2 separate regions of the Homo sapiens genome follow, and region 2 is linked to region 1. The links come from fine-mapping of genetic effects on gene expression. A gene starts in region 1. The other region holds a variant in brackets. All regions are shown on one strand. Distances are from middle to middle.

What was found. PIP is the estimated chance that this variant, and not a neighbour inherited with it, causes the effect.
Region 2: its variant is fine-mapped to the expression of RNF212 in whole blood (TOPMed, PIP 0.98).

What each region holds. Positions count from the first base shown.
Region 1 is chr4:1,112,244-1,115,152 of GRCh38, forward strand. RNF212 (ring finger protein 212) reads right to left here and starts at 1,321. Exons shown (of 10, transcript NM_001131034.4): 1 at 1,113-1,321. The coding sequence starts at 1,221. It overlaps LOC124900647 (nascent polypeptide-associated complex subunit alpha, muscle-specific form-like), which reads left to right and starts at 1,396. Exons shown (of 3, transcript XM_047416477.1): 1 at 1,396-1,509. LOC105374344 (a long non-coding RNA gene) reads left to right here and starts at 1,396. Exons shown (of 3, transcript NR_134676.1): 1 at 1,396-1,509.
Region 2 is chr4:1,062,798-1,065,706 of GRCh38, forward strand. It overlaps a transcript of RNF212 not described here. Among named protein-coding and RNA genes, the nearest start is that of RNF212, 49 kb to the right of the region's middle. The variant A/C (reference allele first, on the strand shown) is at 1,375.

The DNA.
Region 1 (2,909 bases):
AAGATGGGGAGCCACAGAAAGCGGCTTTGCTGTAGGGCTGGTTGTAGGGCTGCATTCACTAAGGCTCCATGGGTCTAAGGCCAACTCCGAGGATGGAGGTCAGCACAGCTGGCGTCCCCTGGGGCTGGAGGGCTGTGAGCCACCGGCACCCAGCTGGCTGCTTTCACGGGGAAGTTCGCTTGGTAAAAGCTCACTGTGTTTTTGCTTTTGTTCTTGCATAAACATCAGTTCAACACAAAATTTTCACAGAAAGAAAAACGCCTCCCTGACAATGCGACTGTCCACTTGACACCAGGGCCCCGCGCTGCCCATGGAATAGGGCCAGAGTCCTCCACTGGCGTTAAGGTTGCCGCCTGCCCGCTTCTCCCCCAGGTCCTCCAGGCGGACCCGCAGCCTGCAAGCCAGAGCCCCCGACTGACAGGACTCGTGGCCCGACCCCTGTGTCCCCCTCATCTTGCATCCCGCTCCCCCCGGCGGCCCCTCCCCTCCACGGCCCCTTCCTGCCTGCGGACCCTCCCCCACGCCCTCCTCCCCTGGCGTCTCCCCTCCCCCCATCTCCTCGGTATCCCCCTTCCCCCCCAAGCCTTGACCCCCCACATCCCCCACCTTGCCCCCCTCCTCTGGCGTCCCCTTCCTCCCTGCAGCCCCCCACCACCTCCGGCGTCCCCTCTTTCCCCACCCTCCCGCAGCCCCTCACTCCCCCGCTCCCTCCCCACCGCTTCTCCAGTGTCCCCCTCTCCCCACGGGCCCCTCATCACGCCCGCGGCCCCCACTCCCCGGTGGCCCCTCCTCCGAATACCCCTACCTCCGCGGCCTCTCACCCCCCCATGCCCCCCCCGCTCCATGCGCCGTTTCTCCCCCTCGGCCCCCCACGCGCCCCCGCGGCCCCTCCACCCCAGGTCCCCCTCCCCTCAGAGTTCCCCTGCTCCTCGCGGCCTCTCCCCTGGCATCCCCCTCCCCCTGCCCCCTCCCCCTTCTCCACGCGCCCTCTCTCCTCCGCAGCCCCCCACGTGCCCCCATGGCCCTCCCACCCAAGTCCCCCATCCCCCGGAGTTCCCTGACCCCCTTGCCGCTCCCCTCCCCTCTCCAGCCTGCGTTCGGGAAGCCCTGACCTTTGCCGAGGCAGGCGTCGCAGTACACGTGCCCGCAGTTGGTGAGGCTGAAGCACGACGTCCTGTGGGGCGGCTGGAAGCAGCGATTACAGAACACCCAGTTGGCCATGCCAGGCGGGCGACCGCAGCGGCGAGGCCGGGCCCACGCGAAGCCCACGCAAGGTTGGGACCAGCCTCCCCGCGCAGGGCCCGAAGGCGGGCAGCTCTGCGCCTGCGCAAAGTCGACGGCAGCCCTGCGCCCGCGCACTGGAGCTCGCGCCCTCCCGCCAACCTCGCGGGTTCTCCCGCAGCACCTGGGAGGGCGCGTGTGACTCGTCTCCCAGGTCGTTTGGGCTGGAGTAGGCGGAGGAACGCACCGCGAGCACCAACGTCCCGCCCCTGTCTTGGCGGTCCTCAGGTGTTTTGTGGAAGCCGGGCCTGGGTGGCGGGCGCGGGGAATGGCGGCTGCGCTGAGGAGGCGTCGCGGCGCGACAGCAGTGGGGGAGGGGGAGGGGGAGCGCCGAGGGCGGGGGATGCGGGCCAGGCCCACCTTGAGGGCCGGGAGCTGGGCCGGAGGCCAGGGCGGCCAGGGTAGTGCGCTGGGCGAGGCAGGGGAGGAGTAGGGGAGAGTGGGCGTGGGGGCCCTGGGGGCCCGGGGAGCGGGATAGGAGGGAGGGAGGGATAAGTGGGTGTGGGAGTTGGGGTGGGAGCGGGAGTGGGGATGTGGGAGTTGGGGTGGGTGTGGGGGCGTGAGGCGGTGGGGGTGGGGTGTGATGAGGCGGTGGGGGTGGGGGGGGCAGTTGGGGGTGGGGGCCAGGCCGCGCTGCACGCTTTGGGACTAGTGTCCAGGTGGCCGCTGGCGCAGAGACCTCAGCACGGGAGGCCTGAGCCTGCTTCCCTCTGAAACGGAAGGCGTAGCTCGGGAAGGACCTCTGCTGCTTCCAGGTTCCAGCATGGGGAAGTGACTTTTTATAAAATTGTCCTCTGCGTGGTTTTGAGAGTTTCCACCCGCTGGGACGCTGCAAAGCTCGGATCGAGAGGCTCAGGCAAGTGCTTGTGCCGGGAGAGCGCAGGGTGAGCGCTCCCGGTAGCTACGGGCCAAGTGACCCCTGCGCCCCGAAAGATGTGAGTAAAATACAGCTGTTTCCAGGGCCTCGTATGAAAACCTTCTTAGTAATTTTATATTGATTACATGTTAACATGATATTTTTGATATATTAGGTTAAATATATATCAGTAGCGTTGATTTTACCCTTTCAAAAAATCCTTTTCAATGTGGAGACTAGAAAACTTAGAATTACGTATGGGCTGGGTGCGGTAGCTCACGCCTGTAATCCCAGCTACTCCGGAGGCTGAGGCAGGAGAATCGCTTGAACGAGGCGGAGGTTGCAGTGAGCCGAAATCACACCACTGCACTCCAGCCTGGGCAACAGAGTGAGACTTCGTCTCAACAACAACAACAGCAAATTAGAATTATGTATGTAGCCCACTTTTATTTCTGTTAGACAGTGCTGATCTCTACCAAGTTTAAAATAGCAAGACCAGCAACGTGGCAAAACCCCGTCTCTACAAAAAATACAAAAATTAGCTGGGTGTGGTGGTGGGCCCCTGGGGTCCCAGCTACTCGGGAGGCTGAGGTGGGAGGATTGCTTGGGCCCTGGAGATCGAGCCTGTGGTGAGCCTGACGGCACCTGTGCAGCAGAGCGAGACTCAGTCTCAAAAATAAGTTTAAGAATAGGATGAGGTGCCTAATCTATCAAATTCAGAAGCTGCATTATAAAAGCATTCTCTCAATGTTATAATGATATAACGTTAATC
Region 2 (2,909 bases), 49 kb before region 1:
ATATACAGAAAACCCTAGAGAATCCACAAAAAAAATCCCCAGAGCTCATAAACTCAGTAGATTGCAGGATACAAGATCCATCTATAAAAATCAGTTGTATTTCTACATACTAGCAATGAAAACCTGAAAATAAAAGTTACAAAACAATTCTATTTATAGTAGCACCAAAATAACAAAATACTTAGGAATAAATTTTACCAATGAAGTGCAAGATTTCTTCACTGAAAACTGCAAAATACCGTTGAAAGAAATCAAAGACCTAAATAAAGGTAAAGCTATGTCCAACATTCATGGATTGGAAGATGCAGTGTTAGTATTAGATGGCAATACCCCCTACATTGATGTACAAGGTGAATTAAAACTCTACCGAGATTTCAACCTGCTTTGTCAGCAGAAATGGGAAAGTTGATCCTAAAATTCATATGGAAATGCAAGGAACTCAAAATATGCAAAACAATCTCAAAAAAGAACAAAGTTGGAAAACTCACACTTCATAATTTCAAAAGTTACTATAAAGCTTTAGTAAGTGAAAGACAAAAAGAAAAATACTTAAAGCAGCAAGAGAAGAGCAACTCATCACCTACAGGACAATACGATTAACAGCTGACTTCTCATCAGAAATAATGGAAATGGCTGGGTACGGTGGCTCATGCCTGTAATCCCAGCACTTTGGGAGGCCGAGGTGGGCAGATCACCTGAGGTCAGGAGTTTGAGACCAGCCTGGCCAACATGGTGAAACCCCATCTCTACAAAACTAGCCAGGTGTGGTGGTGCGCACCTGTAATCCCAGCTCGTCAGGAGGCTGAGGCAGGAGAATCACTTGAACCCAGAGGTGGAGGTTGCAGTGAGATCACACCATTGCACTCCAGCTTGGGCAACAGAGTGAGACTCAGTCTCAAAAAAAAAAAAAAAAAGAAAAAAGAAAAATTAGCCAGGTGTGGTGGTGCATGCCTACAGTCCCAGATACTCAGGAGGCTGAGGTGGGAGGATTGATTGAGCCCAGGAGGTCCAGGCTGCAGTGAGCCATGGTCAAGACACTGCACTCCAGCCTGGGTGGCAGAGACCCAGTCTCAAAAAAAAAAAAATGAAAAAAACCAATATTAATAATAATGGAAGCCAGAAGACAGAGGAATGACATATATACCAAGTGCTAAAAAGTCAACCAAGAAAATGTATCTTCAGTGAAATTATCCTTCAAAATGAAGACAAAGACATTCAAATATGGAAAAAAAAAATGAAGAGAACTGACTTCTAGCCAATCTTCCCTGCAAGAAAAAACTGGAAATGGTTAATATGTTGTGAATGATGGAATAAAAGATTTTTTTCCTCTTAAGGTCTTTAAGAAACATAAGTTTAATTCAGGAAATAATGACA[A/C]CACCATATTGTTAGATTTATAACACATAGATCCCATATATATGTACATAAATACATATGACAAAGCAGGTGGGAGGAAGCGGAGCTATATGGAGCAATGTGGTTACGTTCCACTGGAATTCAGTCGGTGTTCACCTCAGTGAGTGTTCACTGTGGTGAGTTCAAGATGCATGTTGTAATCTCTAGAGGAATCACTGAAATAATAAAGCACACAGATAAAGTATCAACAGGAGAACTAAAACGTGTATTAGTCTGCTTGGGCTTCTGTAATAAAATACCACAGACTGGGTGGCTTACACAACAGAAGTTTATTTCTCGCAGTTCTGGAGACTGGCAAGTCCATCAAGATGCTGGCTGATGGGGGTCCTGGCTTGCAGACAGCAGCCTTCTCACTCTGTCTTCATACGGCCTCTTTTGTGTGTGTGCAGAGTTAGTAAGCAAGCTCCCTGGTGTCTCTTTTGTTTTTTGAAAATTTATGATGATACAGTTTCCTACCTTAACCATTTTCAGTGTACAGTTCACTGGTATTAAATACATTCCTGATGCTGTGCAACCATCACACCACCCATCTCTATAACTGTTTTCATTTTGTGAAACTGAAATTTTGTGAAACTCCCATTAAACGAGAGCTTCCCACCCCTCCATCCCACAGCCGCTGGCAGCCACCATCCTACTTTCCGTCTCTACGATCTTGACTACTTCACACACATGGACTCACACAGCATTTGTGTTTCTGCGACTGGCTTATGCACTTAGCATAGCGTCCTCAATGTTCATCCACGCGGTAGCGTGTGCCAGAGTTTCCTTCCATTTTAAGGCTGAATCATAGCCCACTGTACGGAGACACACATTGTGCCTATCCATTCATCTGATGGATACTTAGATGGCTCCCATGTTTTAGACACTGTGAATAATACTGCTACGATCTTGGGTATACAAGCATCTCTTAGAGACCCTGCTTTCAATCCTTTTGAGTACTGAATTGAAATGCAGCATCATCTGGGAATTGTGTTTTTAAGTTTTGGAGGAAAGGCCACACTGTTTTCCACAGCAGCCACACCATTTCACATTCTCACCAACAGTGCACATGCTTCCAATTCCTCCGCGTCCTTAACAACACTTGTTATTTTGGGTTTTTAAAAATGATTACAATAAACATTTATTTAAAGGAAAACATCTGCAGACCAAATAATTCTGAAGTTTGTTTCAGGTTTAACCATCTTCATAAAAATACTTTGAGGAAAGCTGCATCCACAGACTTCAACTATGTGATTACTTCTTTGTCCATTCTCCTCTCTCGTTTTCTTTTTTCTTGAGACAGGGTCTCACTCTGTCAACCAGTCTGGGGTGCAGTGGTATGATCACTGCTCACTGCAGCCTTGACCTCCCAGGTTCAGGCAATTCTCCCACCTCAGCATCCTGAGAAGCTGGGACCACAGGTTTACGCCACCAGCCTGGATAATTTTTTGTAGAGAGGGGGTTTTGCCCAGGCTGGTCTGGAACTCCTAGGCTCAGCTCCACCTCGGCCTCTCAGC